Linked DNA regions of Homo sapiens: region 2 is linked to region 1. The links come from fine-mapping of genetic effects on gene expression. A gene starts in region 1. The other region holds a variant in brackets. All regions are shown on one strand. Distances are from middle to middle.

Region 1 (11,681 bases):
AGAATGTGTCATAGGTGGCCTGGCTGCCTCCCTGCCCTTCCCTTCTGCCCACAGTGGGAAATAGGCAGCTCTCACTATGCTGGGCCCTCTACCCACCTCCAGAAGGTACAGCATGGCTTCCTGTTGTGGGATGGTATATACCAAGGTATTCATACTCATACAATCACACACAGGCACACCCCTCCCTCCTCAGCTTCTAGGCTCTGCTGTCTCCTTTGCTCTGTAATACCAAGACAGAGCACTTCCCCAGGCACCTTGTTTTGTACGGAGCAGATTCTAGCCTAGTAGTTCGTCCCTGTGAGTGCCAAACCCTCATGGACCATGCCAAGCTGGGCCTGTGTCTTGGCCCGTCTGTATGCTGACCAGCCAGGTCAGACTCTGGGGCCAATTCCCTGACCTGGTGAGCTCTGCCTGCCCAGAACCCCTGCCTCCACAGCCTGGGACCCACCGACACTCACCAGGGTTGGAGGTAGGCTGGGTGTGGAAAACTGTGCCACCATGAGGTCCTGGTCAATTGTGAGCAACTTCCAGCTCCCACCTGACCCTCCTGGAAAAGGCAGATGCCATTAAGTGCTTAGCAGGAGCCATCACCTTTCTTACCTGCTTCTCTGTAACAGAGTCCCAGGCTGGAGACTCTATGGAAAGGTGCCCTTTTCTCCCCGAGAAGTGCCTTTCACAAACACCCAACTGCACATGGCCCCGGGTGAGCCTCCTGCTCTCAGTCTGTTGTTCATCTGACAGACACTGGCTGGGCTGGGAACTGCCAAACCTTAAGACACATCAGACCATGCAGGCACATCTGCCTGTCCCTCGATGGCTGCTGTGTGCAGGGTGGCAGCTGGGACCGGGAAGTTGGGGGTCGGGGAGCGTGCTGATTTGGGGCAGTGGTGTCCAAGCAGTTGTACAATGAGATGTAGCTTTGGAATGATACTTTGGTAGCTTTGTGGAGGAGCGGATACAGTCAGGTCAGGTGGAGGACTCAAAACACATTTCAAAGGCAGAATCACCAGGCCTAAGTATGGGGAAGACGGGGGAGTCAACACTGGGCTTTTCCTGGGCCCTCAGGTGGCAGAGCTGCCTCTGCCTGAGACAGGCACCCAAGGTTTGCAGAGCGAGAAGGATGAGTCTGGCAGATCTTGATAAGAGAGAGTTTTGTGGGTTTTAGGAGCAGAGGTGGGGGCCGTGCTGAGGCTGGGCCAGGACACATGGAACAGAGTTGAGTGCTAAAGGGCAGTAGAGCAGGGAAGCTAGTCTGTTGGTTGGGTAAGGGTCTGCACAGACAGGGGCCTTGGGGACCTGTTAGTAAAGGCTGTGGAACAGTCAGTGGTGCTGAGTGGCTGAGAATGCCATCACTGCCCCACATGTTGGAGCTCCAGTCCCCCGCTGCCTGGTTGGCTTGCTCACCAGCCCTGCCCTTACCCCCATCCCCAAAGCCTTGCTCACCAGCTGTGAGGGAGGTCACAGTGCCCACTTGGGTGTCCACAGCAAACAGGTCCTGAAGCAGAGGCAAGGCCACAGGTGCGACCACATCCAAGAGTACTCCCTCTACCTATGGGTCCCTCCCCTACCTCCTCTCTACCCTCTTGGAGAGCCCTGGCCAGACCAAGGCTGTGGACAGCTATGGTGATGGTTACTCAGTGCAGTAGGGAGTAGTGTGAGGGCCTGGGTTCAAATCCCAGCACCATCACAACTTGCTGGGTGACCCTGGGCAAGGTAAGGAATGGCTTTGAGCCCCTTTGAGTTGGCACAAGGACCAAATATCACACCCAAAAGGAGCCTGGCACACTGTGAGTGGCTTTACTCCATCCCTGGGGGAAGGCCTCAGTCCTGTCCCCATCAGCTGCCATTACAGAGTGTTCAGGGACCCACCCGAGTGGCAGTCCCCTTGACCCCCAGCTAGAAATGCCTGGGAGGGGTTGCATCTCTGCCTCAGACGAAAAGGCCTGAGTTCTGCTGTGGTGCACCAGGGCAGCCAGTCCCCTCCAGGAGAAATGAGTCCAGGATGGGCAGGCAGGGTTTTAAGGGGCTGATGAGACTTTGTGGCTGGGCATTCCACCCAGGGGCATGCACATGCAACCCCCAGGGCTCCTGGGGGTTGACCACAGGGGCTGCCCCTCAACACAATCAGCGTCCCTCACCTGCCGGCTGCGCTGAGCCGAGTCAAAGACCACTCTCTGGCTGTCAGCTGACCAGCATCCCAAAGGCAGAAGGCTGCAGTAGATCCCAGAGAAGTTCTCTGTAAAGATAGGAGGGCTGAGGCTGCATCCAGGAGTGGAGGTAGGGAGGGTAGTCTACAAGGAAGGCTAGGGTACTGGGGAATTCACCCAGGGCCCTACTCAGGCACCAGTCAGGCCCCTGCAGCTTGTAGCACACATGGGGGCACGCTACGCGATGAGGAGCTGCCTGAGTAGGTGGCTGAGGGGCAGAGGCCTCTTGGGACCCAGAGAGGACCCAGAGAGGCAGAGCTCAAGAGCTCCAGAGAGAAACCATGGGTGCTCAGAGGAAAAGCACTTGCTCTCCTGAGTAATTCCAGTTGAACCCAGGTAGGTACCAGGTGCTTTAACCAAGATATCATCTGTCCGTCTTATCTCCACTGTGGTGCTTAGCACAGCGCTTGGCACAGGGGGCTCAGTAAATCCTACCCTTTAATATCATCACTCACTTAACACTCACTATGATCCTATGAGGCAGGCAGACACAATCACCCCTCCATGAAGAAATGGGAGCTCAGGGAGGCCAGGACCCTGTCTGAGGACACAGCTAATTTAGGGCAGAGCTGGGATTCATACTAGGTTCCCACCACTGCATCCCTGCAACCCAAAGAGAAGACAAAGAGGCTATCCCTTGTCCACTGAACTCCTGGAACTGACCGGGTGGCCTGAGAAAACAAGAGACTCATCCTTGAGATGGTCCAGGAGGATCCAAGCAGAGCTATCAACACTCGAGACGGGAGCCTCTCAGCCAAGAGCCACCCTCCTGAAGACCCAGCTGACTTCAGGGCTTAGACTGGACAAAGGTTGCTGGGGTTAGGATGGTGGATGGGATAATATCATGCCCTCGGGTCCAGAGCCTCTCGAGTGTGACATTCCAACCTAGTGCACTTCCTGAGACCCACTTGAAGGAGTCATGGTTTTGGTTTGAACCAGCCATTGGAAAAATAAGAAAACTCTAATTATGACCTGCAGCACAGGAAATAATACATCATCAACTTGGGCCACTCTGATCTCAGCTTGGTCCTACCACTCCTTGCTATTGAACTGTTCCCTACGGTGACAGCCCCGCTCCCTATGGTGACAGCCCCGCTCCCTGAGGATGCTGGGCATAAGGCTGGCCCAGCAGGGAGGTAGGGCCCTCAGAAGGAACCTAGGAAAGAAGAACGGGGCAGGGATGCAACAGACGGCAGGAAAGCAGAGCTACAGGCCCCACTGCACCCACCCAGCCAGGTATGCCTTACCTCCCAGCTGCCGAGGCACAACATCTACCACCACTGAGGTAACCTTGGTATACCAGTCATACTGCAAGAGAACACAATGGTCAGGTCCAGTAGGGGACAGGCAGTTCCCTTAGGGCACAGTGCCCTGTGCCTATCCCCTTTTGCCTCAGGTAGCCCCAGGAGATGGGGGAACTGGAATAAGCCTGATGTATCTCTTTTCTGGTGACCTGGACCAGATGCCCAAGGGGCCTCAGATAGGCATGTCCCTCTGACTTTTACCAGGGGCCCAGAGCTCTTCCTGGGGAGGGTCTGGGATTGTGTAACTCCCCACTATATCCCAGCCCCTTGCAGAGCCTGGCTACATGCAGTTGAGAGCCAAGGGGAGGAGCATTCTTGCAGACGAGCATTCTCTCAAGGTGGAATGCCCCAACAGTGCAAAGCTCTCCATGGCAGCACTCTCAACCTCTAGGCCCTCCTTGAGAGGACAGGCAGAACTCACACCGCTGCTGCATTGAGGACAGAAGGGCACCTACTGAGGGCCTATGGGGAGATGATACTGGCCCTTCAGCTCTCATCCACCATCCCATCTTCTTGCTGACCACCCTCCCATCCCTGCCACCTCCAGCTCACCAGGCACAGCTGGCTGCATTGGTGATGGGGGATCAGAGATGGGTACTGCAGGTAGACAATGCGACATTGGTCTGGGCTCAGCCGGGGAGAAGAGACAGCCAGGGAGTCATCCGAGAGGAGCTCTGGGCCAGATGGAAACATGAGCATCACGCAGGCTGGCAGGGCCAACATGTGTCAGCAAAGCACAGGTGGGCATCAGCCACTTACCACACTTCCCCCCGATGAGGTCCACATAATACAGGGCTGACCTGGAACCACGAGACAGACACTCAGTCTCAAGGCCAGCTGGGCTGCAAGGCCCCTTGCCTTGCCCCACTCCCTCACCTGCGATTGGTGCAAAAGCGGATGCCCAACCGGAAGGGCTCATGCCACCAGCCCACAAACACCACACCAGCATCTCCAGGGGCCCAAAATGCCTGTAAACAGGATCAAAGGGCAGGAGTGAGCAAGGGGTGGTAGCTCAAGAAGGGTCCCAGACTCCAGGGGGGACACAGGCTGTTGCTGCTGACCTGTCCAGGGGACACATTCTCAGGGACCCCCTCAAGCACAGAGATGTTGCCACTCTCGACATCCAGCACGCAGAGCACAGGGATGCTTTTGGAAACCATGTTTTCTCCCCAGTCTTCATAAAACACAAACTGATCCCCCTGAGAACACAAGATACTCAATGCCCAGCCTGTCTATAGGACCTGCTCTGCTTCCTAAAAGCTAGTGCCTCCCCAGGTCTGACAGGCACAGTATGGGAAGGGAGCACACTGAGCCCCAGGGCTGCCCTGCCGGGCCTTCGTGGATTGACCACGAGCACCTTGATGGCTTGGTCTGGCTTCTTCAGCCTGGCTATCTCATCATCGCTGGCACTGACGTCCAAGGCTTTGGTCTGAAAGAAGGACTCGGCCTTGGGGCGCTTCTTCTCTGCCACATACAACAAGTGTGTCTCCGAGTGCGACCAGGACAGGCAGCCAAAGCAGTCTGGGTGCAGGGAGGGCCAATCAGGGGGGGCCCAGGGCTACGGCTACCCCTCCTGTCCACCCTGCCTGCTCACCAGCCAGATGCCTCACCATCCTCATAAACAGGCCCATGTTTCTCCAGCGCTGACAGGTTGAAGCTCTTGAGCTTCCGGTTCTTCTCCCAGACCTGAGGACATCTGGGCATTAGGCTGTTTGCCCGCTAACAGAGCCTTATCTGTGGGGCAGAGCCTCTCTCTTGTCACCCACTACCTGGTCCCATGCAGACTCACCTCCAGGAACTGCTTCTCTTCCCCAGGGCCCGTGCCTCCAGCCTTGCGCAGCACAGCTTTCATGGTGCCTGAAGGAGACTCTCTGCTCAGCAGTCTGTGGACATGGGGTAGCACAGGTCAGGATTATCTTGCAATAACCCCTTCCTGCTCCCTACTGGGCACACCTCTTAGGAGAGATTCTTGAGGCTCTGGCCCCACACCAGCTTCTGGAGCACCTCTAGCCCCACCTTGCCTTTCCTCCCTGAGGCAGAGACTCTACTCTCTGCAACTCCCCAGGCCACCATGGGCTCTAGTCCAGGCTGAGTTTGGAGCAAGCTTCCAGTGCTTATCAGGCCATGTCACCAGAAACTGAATGAGCTCCCAAGGGGGCAAGAACCTGGCTGCTGGCCTCCCTTCTAGGCACATGGTGAGCATTCATAAAAGGCTTGCATTGCGGACGGCTGTGGCCTTGCCCACAAGCTTCCTCCCTCAAACTTACTCCCCCCGGGTCTCCACACTGTTGCCTGCAGGTCCTGCAAACACCACTGAGTCCCCGTCATGGAACACCAGGTATTGGCGGCAGAATCGAATGTTCTCCATGCGTTCCAGGTCCCTCTGGGTCCACTCTGTGAGGGGAGGCATGAGACTGCTCACCTTGTCTTGGCTACTCCTGGCTACTGCCCCCAGCCCCACCTGACCCAGGAAGGCCTAGATCTATCTTCCCCAATCTCTCAATCTGTCTCCAGACACTGACACCCTGGCTGCAGGCTGGACAACACTTGGCCACAACCCTAGTCCAGGCCTCCAGAGCCTGAGCTGACAGCCTCTTTGAGAGAACCCCCTAGTAACCCCAGCATCCACCCTGGAATCTTGAGGGCAGCCTGGCATGTGTATGGGATGGCGTGTTGGTGGAGAGCCCTACAAGGTCCACGCCCTGAGCCCAGGTTTGACTTCTACCCCTACGCCGTCATCTCGTGCACTCATGGCCGCCATTCGATAACGCCCCGCACGCCCCCTCCCCCCCTCCACACACCTGTGTGCAGGGACCTGTGGGAGTGTAACCTCCAAGTCCAGGCCGGCTCCCTATATACCCTTACGCACTGTCAAGCAGCGAGCCCTCCACACCCCCTTCCTTCCCACCCCAGTGCGCGACCCCGTCGCCAGCCAGTTCCCCTTCGCACACACACCAGTGTGCACCGTCCGGTATTGGCCGCCGTACTGCGTGGTGACCTCCGGGCCCAGGCAGGCGGCGCTCAGCGCGGGCTGGCGGCTAAGGCCCCGATACAGAGCCGCCGCCTCCTCGGGCTCGCTCAGCAGCACCTGCGCAGGGGACACACCAGGGTCAGGCCCGGCCCGGGCTGCAGGGACCACGGGGACCGCGGGCCGAGCCCTCACCTGACGTTCCATAGTCTCCTCTCTGCCGCCGGGGCGAGGCGGGGCGTGCTCGCGCCCGGAAGTGAGGCTTCCGGGGGCGGAGCCTGGGACGGCCCGGGCTGTCTCCGCCCCTGCCCTGCGGCAATCTGTGAGGGGCGGGGCCTTCGGCTAATGGGTGAGGACCGTTGGCAGGGGGCGGGCCTTGACGGTGAGAGGACCCGGCCTGGGAGCGAGAAGTCCTGGGTGGGTGAGAGCAGGGGTCTCGCCAGGGGCGGACTAGCCAAGTGGGGGGCGGGGCCGTGGGCTGAGTCCTGGGCCTCTTACCGAGGGGCGAGGCGTTGGATCTCGGAGGAGAGGGGGCGGCCCTGTGGAAGCGGAACCCGGGAGCCCGGCTTCGGGGAGGGTAGAAGGGCCTACGAGAGAAGGGGTTGAGGGGGTGCTGCAAGGCGGAAGCAGCGCGGTCGGACGGGCATGGCCCAAGCACGCGAAGGGCGGGGCCCGAGGGGAATGGGACCAATGAGTCTTTGAGGATGAAGGGCAAGGCGGGCGGGTCCGGATTGGAGCCCTGCGAGGAATGTGGAGCCGGGAGCCTGTGAGCGTGAGCGTGAGCGTGAGCGTGAGCGTGAGCGTGAGGGTGAGGGTTGGGCGGGGCGGAGCCGGCCGCAGCGTGGATCTCCCGCGGCTCTGGGGCTGACTGTAGGGTTCCTTCGGGTCCACCACGAGGCCGACATTCACTACACAGTGCCAGGCCCTGCCCTGGAGGGAGTTCCACGCAGACGAAGAAGAGAAGGGCCAGGGTCCGGGCGGAGGGCGCGAAGCAAAGCCCTGGGGTGCGGGGCAGAGGGGCGGGTGCCAACTCTTAGGGTGCTGCCCGGACTTATCAGTCGCCAGGCCTGCCGCAAGAGCTATCTATCCCCGCAGCCTTTACCCAGCCTTCTCAGTGGCACCTTGTTGGGGACCGTGAGCTGGTGGGTCCCTGCCTTCCTCCCCAGGCCTCACCCTGAGCTCTTGGGTGTGAAAGGCCTGGTGGGCTCAGACTCCACCCAGGACCAGGGAGCTTCCTGTGGAAAAAACCTAGGCAGGCAGGTTCCCTGTGCACGTGGTACAGGATTGGCTGGGCTAAGGTGCCAACAGAGATCAGGAGAGGCTGGACAGTAAGGATGTTCCCTCCATATACCTGAGTCTGGCTGGTCTTCCACATTCAGGGCCCTGGCTCCCTGCTCCATGGCGTGCTTGTGATTGAGAGTCCACTTGTCTGGCCTGTAGCTTCCCCTTTCCCATCAGCCGCATCATTACTTACTCAAGATAACTAGTTAAGTAAAAAAAAAAAAAAAAAAAAAAAAAAAAGTCCCGGCCGGCCGGGCGCGGTGGCTCACGCCTGTAATCCCTGCACTTTGGAAGGCCGAGGCGGGCGGATCACGAGGTCAGGAGATCGAGACCATCCTGGCTAACACGGTGAAACCCTGTCTCTACTAAAAATACAAAAAATTAGCTGGGCATGGTGGCAGGCGCCTGTAGTCCCAGTTACTCGGGAGGCTGAGGCAGGAGAATGGTGTGAACCCGGGAGGCGGAGCTTGCAGTGAGCCGAGATCGCGCCACTGCACTCCATCCTGGGCGACAGCCAGAGTCCATCTTAAAAAAAAAAAAAAAAAAGTGCCAGGCGCGGTGGCTCACGCCTATAATCCTAGCACTTTGGGAGGCTGAGGCGGGTGGATCACCTGAGGCCAGGAGTTCGGGATCAGCTTGGCCAACATGGAGAAACCCTGTCTCTACTAAAAATACAAAAATTAGCCGGGCTGGGTGGCACGCGCCTGTAATCCCAGCTACTCGGGAGGCTGAGGCAGGAGAATCGCTTGAACCTGGGAAGTGGAGGTTGCAGTGAGCCGAGATCATGCCACTGCACTCCAGCCTGGGCAACAAGAGTGAAACTCCGTCTCAAGAAAAAAAAAAAAAAAGAGTCCCAACTTTCTGACGCCACTGCATTTGTCAGTATGTACAGGACTGTATCAAGGCCAGAAACAGGAGTAGAATGAGTGGCCCCAGCCACCAATTTGGGTGGAAAGATTGGAAAATAGGATGTTCATCAAGCATTGTTTATAATAGGAACACTGGGAACATAGTGCCTGTTCCTTAGATTGTGTGTGGTAGACTGGCTATGAACTAATGGTGTATCTCTCTGGAGGTTGAGCACTGGAAGACGAACATTTAAGTACCTGAAATAAACGTGGAAATAAACAGAAAGCTAGAAAACAGGATATATTGCACCTTCTGGCTTCTGTTTAAAATGAAGACTGGAACAACAAACAGGAAAGAAGGACACGCATCAAAATGTTAATTCTGGGGAGAGGGCCAGAGGTGAAGCTGGGATTCCTGTTTATCTGTGTTAAAAAAAAAAAAAAAAAAAAAAAAGGTCTAGCAACTCTGGGTGACTTCGGTAAGGAGGTACTCCTGACCATCTGAGGAAGGCCTAAGGTCTGGCAGCCGGTGAGAGTTTGGGGGTTGGAAAATTCGGAGCAAGGCAGAGAGGTGTAGGGCTTGTTGGCAGCACCAGGGGGCAGCACTTGTTCACTGCCTCCCTGGAACCAGGTCCCAGAAAGCTGTGTATGCAGCCAACACACCTGAAGGCCATGGAGGTGCTGTCCCTCAACAGCCTGCGCACTGACTGCCTGCTCCAGGTCCAAGCTTGGGACCTCCCCTTGGGCACCTTTGTGGAGGGCCCATTGTCTTTGGATGGCTTGGTGTGGACTCAGCCCCGTGCTGTGCCAGCACTTCTGCAACTTTGTCCATCCTTTTCCCTTTAACCATGGACAGGATTGTCGCAAATTTGGGGATTTGCTCCTTCAGCTAAGCCTTCCCACTTGAGAAACCATCCCAGAAACAGTCTGTAGGTTGTTTATATCAAGTCCTTTTATTCTGATACCACAGAATTACCTTGTCACAATACAGGGGGAGGGACACTGAAGTACCACGAGTTCTCACAGAGCACAGAAGGACAGCACACAATTCACAAGGTCATGTGGAGGACTCGGGTCATTGCACTTACAACTGTAAACTTGTTTGTTTGACTTTGTACAGCACTCTTCCCCCCTCAAATAAAGAAGGAGAGAAGGAAAGAAAGGGAGAGAGGGAGGAGGAAGGGGAAAGCAAAAACAAGACATGAAAGCTAGAGGAAAAGGTATTGAGTGGCCACCACTCTCCAGGGTAGTGCACTTGGAGAGAAGGAGCTGATTTGACCCCAGAAACTGAATGAGGCAGAAACACACACACACACACACACGCACGCACGCACGCACATACACACATGATCATGTGCATACACATACAATATCTCACGACTGCCATGGCTCTCCAGTGCCACCCCAGTGCACATGGCAGCAGGGCTGCTGGCACCCAGGGAGACAGAGATGGCATCTCCGAGGAGTTTCAGTTGATTAGGCCTGTCCCTCTAACCCTGTTGGAGTCCATGATGACAAGTATTTACAGCATGGGGGTGGGTAAGAGGAGAGCAGACGGGACAACAGGGCAGGACCATGCTGTCCTGGCAAAGGACCTGCCTGGAAAACTCCCTACAGGCTCCAGAAGGCAAGGCATAGTTGCCACCACTGCTGTTCTTTCACTGTGGGCCCTCAGACCACATGCTCTGCCCAAGGATTGTAGGGGAGGGCTGTCACTGTGAAGTGAGTGCACTGGGCCCTGAAGTGAGCAGAGAGAGGAGGCAATGCCCTTGCTCATGATGCTGGGGAGAGGGGTATGGAGAAGGCCTGGGCTGCATGCTAGAGACTCCTTGCCCATTTGGAGATGTGTCTGTTGCTCTCTACTTTCCAAGGCACCAAGTGCTGGTCCCTCAGCTTCTGGCTGCATTGTCCCCAGAGTCACAACTGCATCCATGCAAGGGCCAGGAAGGACAGTCCATGGACCAGAGGCCTGCTCCAGCCACCTTCACAGAGGGGCGATGATGTATCCTGTGGGTACAGTGGGGGATGAGGAGTGGCAGATGTCAGAATTTCAAACTCAGAGGGCTTGGCCAGAAAGGAAATTTGCTGAAAAGTCAGTACTTTAGAGCCTGAGACTAGGCCTGCTGGAGGCTGACCTCCTAACATTTCCCTGCCTGTTCCCTACTTCTTGTCCCATCCCCTGGCCTGTAGTGGAAAGGACTATTGCCTTGGTCTCCAAGGCACATCCCCACACAGACCTGGTCCTGGGTGGCCAGAGGTGTTAGGTGATGGCTTCCCTCAGCCCTTGCTCAGATGGCTGCATTCAGCCCATACCTGATCTTTGGGATGAGGCAGGTATTCCATGGGTGGGGTGAGGCCAAGTCCCAGAAAGGCAAGGGTGTTAAGTCCAACACAAAGGTTGGCAGCTTCCTGTCCCATCCATAGCTACCAGAGGTGAGCGAGGAGCCCTCTCTGAAGGGGTGTGTAGATCTTATAGAAAAGCATGAGAAATGCGGACCCCTGAGAAATGCATGGTGCAAACCAGAGCACTCTGGACGAAGGTCAGGCCTTGAAGGGTCAGGCAGGTACTGCCTGCCGCACTCCTGGCTCAATGGTAAAAAAGCTGATGAGCAGCGGGACGCTTGGGCTTTGGAGAAGGGGGTGAGCAGGGAGCATAGGTCCTGGGGACAGATGCAGAGAGGGTCACACAGGACCTTCTGTAAGATTTGCTATTGAGAAACTTCACAAGAAACTTAGCTTGAAGCCACTGTTTATATGAACAGTTCCAGATGACCACTGTCAACTGTTCTCACCACAAGTGCCAAAGGCCCAGCTCTTCCTGAGCATCCATTGACCCCCTAGCTCCAGCCCAGATCTCCTGGCTCACAGTCCTTTGAGCCTCCTAGCCACAGAGGAGAGGCATGAAACAGGTGCAGTCAAGAGCTGGGGTCCCTCGGGCACAGCCTGGCTCTGCTCTTGCCTCTGCCTCTCTGGCTGTGGATGCCGCCCAGCTCTGCCCTTGCGTGGTGCCCTCTGGGAAAGGGCTGTCAGATGCCTCTGGCTCAGGGTTGGGGTAGGAAGGGAAAATGACAGA
Region 2 (11,681 bases), 20 kb before region 1:
GCTGGCGGGTGTCAAGGCAGGGCTCTGCTTGCCAAAGGGCACTCTGCACACCCTCAAGAGTCCTTCCCCAGGAGCCCATCCCTGGATGTGCCTACCACAGCTCTCCCACCACCACAGGGGCATGTTGCTGCTATGTGTCTGACCCCCAGGGCATGCTCCCTGACAAAAAGCTGTGGTGGTTAAGCCCACCAGCTCCAGTACCCAGCAGGTGCACGATAAGGGCTTGTCACAGGAACAGATGACTGTGGGACAAGCTGGAGAGAGGGACTGGTGGCCTTTTCTCAGGCCCCAACTCTGACCTCTGTGTCTCCCAGCTTTGTGTCTGCCTCCTGGAGGCTGGAAGACCCCAGACCAAGAAAACGGCTACAAGCTGAGGCTTCCCAGCCAGGGGCTCAAAGCTATGCTCTCACTCACTCATGCAGTTCCCAACAATTCTGGGAAGCAGGAAGAGCTGCCTCCTTAAAGATCTTGCAGGAATCCCCACTGTGGAACATGAACAAAAGTGCTGGGCTGTGGCCGAAGAGGGCAGGCCCTGTGGCCCCTCCCACACCTCTGCGTAGCCCGAGTCTGCAGTCATTCAGAACCCCCTGGCTAGGCTGGCTGGCCAGGCTCAGTCCTTTGCTCTCTCGTCCTTGCTCTGTAGAGAAAATGCCACGTTGGGCAGCTCTGGTCCTCCTGATGCTCCCAGGGGACCCCTGGCCTGATGACACTCCCCTTCCTGGCCTCTGCTGAGTCCAGAGGGCACCCCATGTCTGGCCTGCCAGGCAGCAAGGAAAGGATACAGGACATTGCTAAGCAGAAACTTGCGGGACTTCTCATGCCTCAGGATGGCGATAGTGAGCCGCAGGTAATGGATCTGTGGAGAGGGGGCGTTCAGAGTGGACAGGCGAGTCCCAGGGGGCTCAGGGCAGGGGTAGGGGCTCCCACCTGTAGGCCCAGGTCTGGGACAATGGGTGAGAATCGGTACAGCCGAAGCAGAGACATCATCAACTGCTTGAGGCAATCTTGTACCTCGTAGTCCTGGGGGAAGAGATGCCAAGGCAGCCATGACTGGGGCCTTTTCCAAGATTCTCCCCGTATCTTCCCGACCCCAGTGAAGACTGACAGCCAGGCCTGAGGCCTGAGGTCAGGAGCCTCACCTCCATGAAGAGCCACAAGAGGTCCAGGACCTGGTGCACCACGGACTGTGCCTGTGTGGGTGTGCCCTTCTCCACGATGCCCAGCAAGAAGCTCATGAGCACAGCCTCCACCAGATACACCTTGCGCTGCACCAAGGCCAGGCACTGGTGAGGTGGTGGCCTTCCACTCTGGTCAAGGCACCCCTGCCCTGGCACATGGCCAAGGCACAAGCCTCAGGCACAGAGCCTTGAGCCACTCGAGCAACACCAAACATAGATGACCCCTTCCGGGGTCTGACTGAGGGACAAGAAGGCCATTGCCCCACGGCTCCTCTAAGGCTTGGCACACGCAGTTTCCTTGGCCTGGGATGTTATTATCCTTCAGTCTTCTTTCCAGGACATCCCCTGATGCCCTTGGTTGGCAATGTCCCTGTTTCCCTAGGGGACTGACTGAGGTCTGAGGGCCCTGGTCACATGGGGCCCTCGCCAGGTGATGCTGTGGGACCTCAGCACTGCAGCCCTCAGTGAGGGCACATCTACCACGGGCGTGTCTAGCATGGCCTGTCTCCTCCCCTCCCATGCCCCTCCCAATGCCGCTCACCAGAAGCGGTGCAAAGTGATGGAAGATGTGGGCCAGTGTGAGGAGGACGGTGGGCTGGCCCCGCAACCGCCACTTGGAGCTCTCCTTGTCCAACAGCCGCCCCTCCTGTGTGGAGGGGGAGGAGGGAGAAGTGTGAGGGGCAGGAGGCTGTGGAAGCCCCCCACCCCGCCTGGCCCAGACCCCAGCTCACCACAGGGTCCAGCTCCACACTCAGCACTGCCCGGAAGCAGCCCAGCAACCTCTGTGCCCGCACCAGGTCAGCACTCGGTGGGTCCTGCAGGGGCCGGTAGCCTGCCACTGGGTAGGTGCCAGAGTTAAGCCAGCAACGCCTTATCTGTGGCTCAGACATGCCTACTCCCTCTCCACTGCCCACCCCCCACCCCGGGGCCTGGGCTCTAGGGCAGGGCTGGTTTGCATCACAACTTGCCCACTTATTCTCCCTAGGGAGGATGCTTCACATTCCTCATCTGTTCAGTGGAGACAAGGGCACCCAACCAACCAGGCTGCTGCGAGGAAAGTTTTCTTCGACACTCTACATGGCCCCCCACTAACTCTGCAGCAGCCAGGGCCTGCCACCAGCCCATGGCACCCCTGGGGTAGGGAGCCCCTCATCCCAGCCTCCCCAAGAGCTTCTGAGCAGCCCACAGCCATCTTCACAAAATGATATCGCAGAGGACGGCTGCCAAAGTTGAAGGCCACGGACTCCTTGAAAGAGAGGCTGATGGCTGGGAAGTAGGCCATACCCAGGCCCCTGGACAGGTTCTCAAAGGCAGTGCCCAGTGATACACCGTTCCTGGGGAGAAGGGTGGGTCTGTGAGCCAGTGCTAAGCATGTGGCTGCCCACCCTCAGGCTATCAAACTCAGTCTGGCCCCTTACAGGGCCCAGGAAACTGGGGGCAGTCTGGGGAGGCCCCAGGGGCCAGGCCTGTGCATAGAGATAGGAAACTCACAGGCAGAAGGACAGAGTGCCATCATCCAGGTCAATCAGGCAGCTCACGATGTCCCCCGCTGCCCACGCCTGCCATGAGAGGAGGCCTCACCAGATGCACAGAAGCCCAGCAGCCTGCTGACTCTGAACCCCAGCTGCGTTTCCAGAACCACCCAAGGGAGACTAGCCACAAGGACAAAGGACCTGGGTCCCTGACCCTTCCCTGGTGCCCTGTAGTCCCTTATGGCTGCCCAGTGGCTCCAAATAAGCTGTAGTAACAGTCATGGGGCGGATGACCCACAGGGGCTTGGCTCTCACCTTGCCATAATTCGTTGTGGTCACATTCCACTTGCGCACGCGGTTGCCATCATAGGCATAGGAGTTGTGTGTATCTCCAACCCCCTCCTAGGGAGGAAATGCCTATGAGGTCCCTGGTGAGGCAGGCAGGGTCTGGGCCAGAGCCCACCAATCACCAGCCTTGGATGCATATGGCTCTACAGAAGGGAACAGATGATCTGAGGGAAAGAGTAAGAGGTATTCTCTGAGCTGGGGTGCCTGGGATTGGGTGGGACACGTTTCTTCTCCAGAGGGCAGTCCAGGTTAGTTAGGGTCCTAGGCAGTTCTGAGGGGATCTGGAGACCTGATGAGGCCTGTGGCAGGAGAAGCTCTCCCTGGGCCCAGGGAGGGGTCCCCTCCCCAACGTGTACCTCCTGGTTGAAGCGGCAGCTGATGGTGCACCAGCCGATCTGCATGAGCCCCTGGGAGGAGATGAGGACCTCGTAGAGCCATTTCCCTGGAAAGAGCTGAGTTAGGGCCACGAGGTGGACAAAGACTGCCTCTTGCCTCATGCCTGGGCCCTTAAACTTTCTCCTCACTACCTAGGCCACAGCAGGGTAAGGTCTCACCTTTGTACACGCATGTGGTAGAGCGGATGGTGCCAAAGTTGCTGTGTCCAATCACCTGGGTGAAGAAGAGGGGTGGTGGGCTAGCTCCCAGGCACACAGAGCATCTCCCCAAGGGAAAAAGACCCCATCCCCAACTGAGCCAGCCCTGGTGGTATTTGCCTGTGGCGGCCAACACTGCACTGTGCCTGAGGACGGTGGGAGCGGGTAGGCTTGTATCAGGAAGGATCCTGGGCCAAGGCAGGATGAGAGAGGGACTCAGGGCTGTGCTGGGAAGGGCTGGGGGCTGAGTCCACATCAAGACTGTTTCAGGGCTTTAGTGGGAGAGTTTGAGGACTGAGAACACAATGGTCTGGGGCCACGTCAGGACAAGTTTTGGCTGCAGCCCCATCAGATGAGTAGAGAGACTAGGGCCACATCAGGAGGAGCCTGGGGCTATGTCAGAAGGGGCTGGACCTGGGTCTCCACACCTCACCCTCACTCACCCCCAGCAGGTCATCATCCACCAGGAGAAGCCCCTCAAAGCCGCCTGTGTGGTCCAGGACCACAGTGGATGGGCCAAGCCGCCCTTCAACCTGTCCTGAAAAGAGGAGAGGTGGGGTCAGGCAGGGTGGAGCATTTGACAGGATGCATAGGGTGTCCTGAGCTCACCAGACGTCTCCAGGCCCGCTACGTCCCAGCTCTGCACCTCCCAACCCCACTCCAGAGGTGGCCACATACCCTGGCTTTCCTCCTCCTCATTGTCCACCTGTAGCAACTGGTCCAAATGTTCTGGCAGGTTCTGGAAGTTCAGGGGTTTCCTGGGGAGAGTGAGAGGCTGCCAGGGGTCCACAAGTCCTTGAAATCAGCCAGATGACACTAAATCCCATCCTTTCCCCTGAGCTCACAGGGGGGCTGCCTAGACTCCAGAAAAAGGGCTGTGCCTAGTCCTAGACTCTGGCATGCAGGAGGTCAGAAGGCCGAATTCTCCACTAAACTCAAAAGTATAACCAGTCCAGGCCGGGTGTGGTGGCCCATGCCTGTAATCCCAGCACTTTGGGAGGCCGAGGCGGGCAGATCACCTGAGGTCAGGAGTTCGAGACCAGCCTGGCCACATGGTGAAACCCCATCCCTACTAAAAATACAAAAATTAGCTGAGTGTGGTGGCGCATGCGTATAATCCCAGCTACTC[G/A]GGAGACAGAGGCAGGAGAATAGCTTGAACCTTGGTGGGGCAGAGGTTGTAGTAAGCCAAGATCGTGTCATTGTACTTCAGCCCGGGCAACAAGAGTAAGACTCTGTCTCAAAAAAAAAAAAAAAAAAAGTATGTGGCCAGGTGCGGTGGCTCATGCCTGTAATCCCAGCACTTTGGGAGGCTGAGGCGGGCAGATCACGAGGTCAGTAGTTCAAGACCAGCCTGGCCAACATGGTGAAATTGCGACTCTACTAAAAATGCTGGGCGCGGTGGCATGTGCCTGTAATACCAGCTACTTGGGAGGCGGAGGCAGGAGAATTGCTTGAACCTGGGAGGCGGAGGTTGCAGTGAGCCATGATCGTGCCACTGCACTCTAGTCTGGGTGACAGAGCAAGACTCTGTCTCAAAAAAAAAAAAAAAAAGTAGCCCTCTCTAAGTCTTAATTCCTTCATCTGTAAAAACAGAATAGTGACTTATGTTAGAGATGCTGTGAAGAGCCCAGGGAATAACAAGTGCTGTCTGCATAGCACATAACCTGTCCGCTCTCAAAGGTGGCTGTGCTGATGATGTCTGGAAGAAGAAGGCTGGGAGAAATGCTGGTTCCCAAAGTGGTCAGTACCAAGGCCACCTAGTCCAACCCTTGCCCCTAGGCCTGTGGTTCCTTTGGGGCAGATTCCAGTCTCGCCACCACCCAGCCAGGGGAGTCTGTGTTGAATGGGACATGTTCTGGAAGTATGAAAGGCTCAGCCCTCTGAGCTGCTGGATGGCTCTGTCCTGTACCCGCCAGTCCATAAATGGTCAGCGGAGCACATGACCCACCTACCCGAGCCAAAGGAGTTGGGAAAAATCTGTCTGGGTGGCCCCCTCATCCTCTCAACACACAGGCCTAGAGGGAAAAGGGTACTGTCTAATGCCAGTCAGTGCTGTCCTGAGCTCAGCTGCTAAGAATAGCAGGGAGTGAGGTGGTGGTAACCAGCAGGACTCAGGCAGAACAGAGGCCCATTACACACCTGGCTGCCCACAGGGTGCCACCACCTGCTCTTCCACCTTTAATGCCAGTTCTTACCCCACTCATCCACACAGACAGAAAGCTCTGGAAGGGGACAAAGGTTGGACAAGCACCCTGACAAAGTAGCCACTACCCAGGCTCAGGGATCACATATTCCCCAGTGTAAGCCACTCCCAGCCCTGAGCTGTAGGAGCAGAGATGCACAAAGGCCCCTCCCCACTGCTGCTCTGTCCCAGGCCAAGGCCAGGTGGTGGCTATGCAGTCGGGGTGCTCAGCTAGTAGCATAGAAGGCTAAAGCCAACCCCATCTCTGAATACCCCAGTGGGCCCAAGGATAAAGGAGCCTTCCTCAAAAGCAGTTACAGGCCAAGCATGGTGGCTCACACCTGTAGTCTCAGCACTTTGGGAGGCTGAGGTGGGAGAATCACTTGAGCCCAGGGGTTTGAGACCAGCCTGGGTGACACAGTAAGACCCTGTCTCTTAAAAAAAAAAAATTAGCTGGGTGCTGTGGCATGTGCTTGTGGTCCCAGCTATGTGGGAGGCTGAGGTGGGAGGATTCCTTGAGCCTGGGACTTTGAGGTTGCAGTGAGCTATGACTGTGACATAGCGAGACCCTGTCTCAAAAGAAAACAGTTCTTAACAAGCCCACACTTGGAGCAGCTACTCTTGTACCTGACCCCAAAAGTCGTGTGCCTGATCCTGAGAGCAGACTGCACATATCTGTGGGCAGTCGGCCTGAGACAGCCACCACTGAGTGCCTACAGCACTGCCCATTTGGCCAAGACCAGCAACTTCCCTGACCTTTTTGGATCTCCTAGGTCCCAGTTCAGGGCCCTGAATACCCACAACCACTGACTGACAGCCCTACCACCTGCTGTCTCTCCTGGCGGCCACAGCAGCAGCAGCAGCAGTAGGACCATCTCTGGTATCACATGAGGTAGGGATCAGATGGCTCTGAGAACAGGCCAGGACTGAGTATGGGGTGGGGGTGGGCAGGAACTCTCTGCAAGCAGGCACTTTCTGACCACCACAGTTGCTTAAATAGAACAGGTAACGTTGCTGCCTTTTGGACCTGCCTAAAGGGCAGAAGTCGTAAAAGACAGAACAGCTAAGGCTGATGAGGGGGTGAGAGACAGGGACAACCGTGCCTCACTGCAGGGAGGGAGAACCTACTTGATCCTTTGAAGAAGTAATCTGGCAACAGTCTTAAAAGTGACTGCAGTTCAAACACTCTAGCCACACGACTCCAGCCCTGGGCATCCTCACAGCATTGTTTACAAAAGCAAAAGTCCTTCCAAACTAGGGCACTGGTATGGGCCACAGCAGACCCCCTGGCCCTAAAGATGCTCAGTAAGATAAATTGATAATGGGGAAAAATACTCACGGGATAACATTTGATGATAAAAATAGGATGCAAACTTCTATAGACTTTTGGAAGTGAGGGACATGTCCATTACCTTGATGGTAGTGATGGTTTCACGGGTTTTATATATATGTTAACACTTATCAAATTGTACACTTTAAGTATGTGTAGTTTATTGTATATTAATCATAGCTCAATAAAAACGTTTTAAGAAAAGAACTGAAGGTGATAAATTTTTTTAAAGTTTTCTATACAGCATAATCTGAACTACATACATTATAAGATAAACAGACATGAAGTTAAAAAGCTTCTGCATAGCAAAGTAAACGATCAACAAAGTGAAGAGACAGCCCACAAATGGGAGAAAATATTTGTAAACTACCCATCTGACAAGGGATTAATAACCAGAATATACAAAGAACGCAAACAACTCTATAGGAAAAAAACTAATAATTCCATCAAAAGATGGGCAAAAGATACGAACAGACATTTCTCAAAAGAAGACATACGAATGGTAAACAGGCATATGGAAAGGCATTCAACGTCACTGGTCATCAGAGAAATGCAAATCAAAACTACGAGATATCATCTCACACCAGCTAAAATGGCTTTTATCCAAAAGACAGGCAATAACAAATGCTGGCGAGGTTGTGGAACCCCTGTATGCTGTTAGTGGGAATGTAAATTATAATAGTGCAATCACTATCGAGAACAGTTTGGAGGTTCCTCAAAAAACTAAAAATTGGTCAGGTGCGGTGGCTCATGCCTGTAATCTCAGCACTTTGGGACGTCGAGGTGGGAGGATCACCTGAGGCTAGGAGTTCGAGACCAGCCTGGCCAACATGGCGAAACCCCATCTCTACTAAAAATACCAAAATTAACTGGGTGTGGTGGTTTGTGCCTGTAATCCCAGCTACTCGGGAGGCTGAGGCAGGAGAATTACTAGAACTTGGGAGGCAGAGGTTGCAGTGAGCCAAGATCATGCCACTGCACTCCAGGCTGGGCAACAAGAGCAAAACTCCATCTCAAAAAAAAAAAAAAAAAAAAAAAAAAGGCCAGGCACACTGGCTCACGCCTGTAATCCCAGCACTTTGGGAGGCCGAGGTGGGCGGATCACGAGCTCAGGAGATCAAGACCATCCTGGCTAACACGGTGAAACCCCGTCTCTACTAAAAATGCAAAAAATTAGCTGGGCATGGTGGCGGGCACCTGCAGTCCCAGCTACTTGGGAGGCTGAGGCAGAAGAATGGCATGAACCTGGGAGGCGGAGCTTGCAGTGAGCTGAGATTGTGCCCCTGCACTCCAGCCTGGGCAACAGAGCAAGACTCCGTCTCAAAAAAAAAAATTTTTCAAAAAAAAAAAAACTAAACTAAAAATTGAGCTACCATATGATCCAGCAACCCCACTGCTGGGTATATACCTGAAAGAAGGGAAATCAGTATATCAAAGAGATATCTGCATTCCCATGTTTGTTGCAGCACTGTTCACAATAGCCAAGATTTGGAAGCAATCTAAGTGTCCATCAACAGATGAATAAATAAAGAAAACATGGTACATATACACAACGGAGTACTATTCGGCCATAAAAAAGAATGAGATCCTGTAATATGCAACAACATGGATGGAACTGGAGGTCATTATGTTAAATGAAATAAGCCAGGCAGAAAAAGACAAACATTGCATGTTATCACTTATTTGTGACAGCTAAAAATTAAAACAATTGAACTCATAGAGGCAAAGTACTGGATGGTTACCAGAGGCTTGGAAGGGTAGTATAGGGCTTGTGGGGAGATGGGGATGGCTAATGCGTACAAAAAAATTGAATTAATGAGACCTATCTGGTAGCAGAACAGAGTGACTATAGTAAATAATAATTGTACATTTAAAAATAACTAAAAGAGTATAACTAGATTGTTTATAAGACAAAAGATAAATGCTTGAGGGGATGGATACCCCATTTACCATGATGTGATTATTACGCATTGCATGCCTGTATCAAAGTATCTCATGTACCCTATAAATATATATACCTACTACATACCCACAAAAATTAAAAATTAAAAATGTAACACAAAGAAAGAAACAGAAAAGAATCACATTTGAATAGTCATGTTAAAATAACAAGATAGCAGGTGCTTTTCCTTCTTTTTTTAGAGACAGGGTCTTGCTCTGTCACCCAGGCTACAGTGCAGTGGCATGCAGAGGCCAACTCACTGCAGCCTCAACCTCCTAGGCTCAAGTGATCCTCCCACATCAGCCTCCCTAACAGCTGGGACTACAGGTGCACACCACCATGCCCAGGTAATTTCTGTATTTTATTGTAGAGATGGGGTCTTGCCATGTTGCTCAGGCTGGTCTTGAACTCCTGGACTCAAGCAATCTACCCACCTTGGCCTCCCAAAGTGCTGGGATTACAGGTGTGAACCACTGTGCCTGGCCCTCTAAGTTTCTGCTAAAATGTACTTGTAACTTTTATACTGACTACACTTAAAAGTATTAAACTTGTAAAGAAAAGGCCCTGGAGGAGTTTGTTCTTTACAAGGTCAGTCAGAAGCTACAAGGGGCCAGGCTGGGGCCAAGGTGAGGGCAGGTACATGCAGGGGCAGATGCTGGGTATGGAGTAGGTGCCAGGTGCTAGCTGGGCATGAATGTGCACCCGCTCCCTGACCTCTGCTCCCTGACTCTCAGAAGGAACTAGCACTGCCTGGAGACAGGAAGAAGCAGAGTACGGAAGGCAGACTCTCTGGCCAGAGATCTCGCAGCCAGGAGCACAGTGAGAACAGAGCCTAAGCCTATCTGTCCAGAGCCCAGGCTCCCTTTCCCTACAACTGCAGCCTCCTTATTCTGGTCTGGCCCAGCAGAGTGAGGAGGGGCCACCCACCCAGCCATACCTGCTGGTGGCTGCTGGGGGTGCATGTTCAGAAGAGGAAAAGATGCGGTTCAGGTAGTCATTCAGCAGCTTCTCCTGCACAATGCCTGAGCCACAAGTCAGAAGGGAGAAAAGGGCCACATGATCAGTGCAGCTCCTGGCCCCTGCTGGCCCCAGAGACTTCTGGTCCTAGGCCAGCCACAGGTGCAGCAAGGCCTGAGGCCTTTGTCCCTTCCTTCTCCTCCCAACAAGAGGAGCCTCCTTCCTTCCCTGCCAGCTCTTACCTGTGACCCTGGATTTCTCAGCATCTGAGGTCAGCCTATAGCTCTTGCGGGAGAAAGACATGCCGGCCCCCTTGGATGCCATCCTTCATCTCTCATGGGCAGCCAGTGGTCCTGGGGGCTGAGCCAGACACAGAGCCTGTCTACTCAGGGCCAGCCAGGGGCCCCCACACCTGACCTCAGTCCTGCCATGGCAGGAAGGCTTGGGAGCAGGTGAGGCCAGGGGCATGCACACTAACACATAGGGCAGGGGAATGCAGGGGCTCCCAGCTTCCTACACAGGGAGGGTAGCCAGGGTCTAGGCCCATGTAACAGGGACCACTTCTTGTTCTCCAGTGTCCCTGTGCCCAGCACAGGGCTGGGCAGAGAGCAGGTACTAGATATATTTTTGCCGAACCATAACAAAATGTCTCAGCTCTGTGGAAATCAGACCAAAATGTCCAAAGTGAGGTGTCCTAGGGGCAGAGCCCCTGTATCCATCTCAGTTGTAAGCCATACTGAGTCCAGCTCACAACCAGAAGCGACAATCCTACACATTCCCCCAAGTGCAGACCACCACTGGTCTGGTCATCTCTAGCCATAAGTCCCACTTACTCCCCACAAGGCTGGAGCCTCTTTCCTCAGCCCTGGGTTCCTCCCTTCTTTTATCCATGGTCCTGATAGTTTCACCATTCCCACTCACACATGTGGCCTCCCACCTCATCCAAGCACCACCCTTGCCCAGCCCTCATGGCAAACTCCATTGGTCCTCCTAGTGCATCTATCCCTCACATCATGTTGCTGCTGCAGCTGCTCCAGAACCTGCACTGAGTCCCTGGTGCTGGCCTCACTGATGTGTAGCGGTGCTGTCCAACACAGCAGCCGTCATCCACATGAGGTTACTTAAATTTAAAGTTTTAAAAATTAACAATTCGATTTCTCAGTTGCCTTAGCCACATTTCAAGAGTTCAATGACCACATGTGGCTAATGGTTACTCTGTTGGACAGCACAAAGGTAGAACGTTCCCACCATCATATAAAGTTCTATTAGACAGCGCAGGTCTAGAGTTTCGCTCTGCAGCACTGCCTTAGCCAGCACTCCCTACTCTGCAGTTCAGTCTCTTATCTCACCCCAAACAGACCCTCTACTCCCGCCACAAACCCTTGTGGGTCTGCACCACGCCTGCTCCTCGGGAAGGTGATTTTCCCGACCTCGGGCCCTCGGTGGGCGTCCATGATCGGTGCCCCTTCACTACCAGAGTAGTTGAAGATCTGATTAAACTCAGTCATTCATTTGATGAGCAGACCTTCCAGACACCCGGAGTGGGCTCCGGGAGTCAGTTGCTGAGGACCCAGGTGAGAGGCGGACCTTGTCCCCGCCCGGGGACTCCCTGTCACGGCTATCCCGTCCAACCCCGCCGGGGTATCCGGACTCAGAACTGAACCTACTCCGTCTGGGAG

What was found. PIP is the estimated chance that this variant, and not a neighbour inherited with it, causes the effect. A credible set is the group of variants that fine-mapping cannot tell apart.
Region 2: its variant is the best candidate, but not a certain one, in a credible set for the expression of APEH in whole blood (TOPMed, PIP 0.53).

Annotation. Positions count from the first base shown.
Region 1 is chr3:49,669,407-49,681,087 of GRCh38, reverse strand. APEH (acylaminoacyl-peptide hydrolase) reads right to left here and starts at 6,737. Exons shown (of 22, transcript NM_001640.4): 1 at 6,675-6,737; 2 at 6,467-6,599; 3 at 5,779-5,905; 4 at 5,301-5,394; 5 at 5,122-5,197; 6 at 4,869-5,032; 7 at 4,573-4,710; 8 at 4,388-4,479; 9 at 4,271-4,311; 10 at 4,064-4,185; 11 at 3,455-3,515; 12 at 2,139-2,236; 13 at 1,444-1,495; 14 at 459-547. The coding sequence starts at 6,686. It overlaps BSN (bassoon presynaptic cytomatrix protein), which reads right to left. Exons shown (of 12, transcript NM_003458.4): 12 at 9,539-11,681. RefSeq lists a silencer at 6,443-7,052.
Region 2 is chr3:49,689,811-49,701,491 of GRCh38, reverse strand. RNF123 (ring finger protein 123) reads right to left here. Exons shown (of 39, transcript NM_022064.5): 2 at 10,245-10,362; 3 at 9,983-10,067; 4 at 4,270-4,349; 5 at 4,035-4,129; 6 at 3,553-3,607; 7 at 3,355-3,440; 8 at 2,966-3,052; 9 at 2,670-2,737; 10 at 2,387-2,512; 11 at 1,910-2,024; 12 at 1,720-1,824; 13 at 1,140-1,265; 14 at 928-1,020; 15 at 783-856; 1 more. The coding sequence starts at 10,326. Among named protein-coding and RNA genes, the nearest start is that of RNF123, 6.1 kb to the right of the region's middle. The variant G/A (reference allele first, on the strand shown) is at 4,721.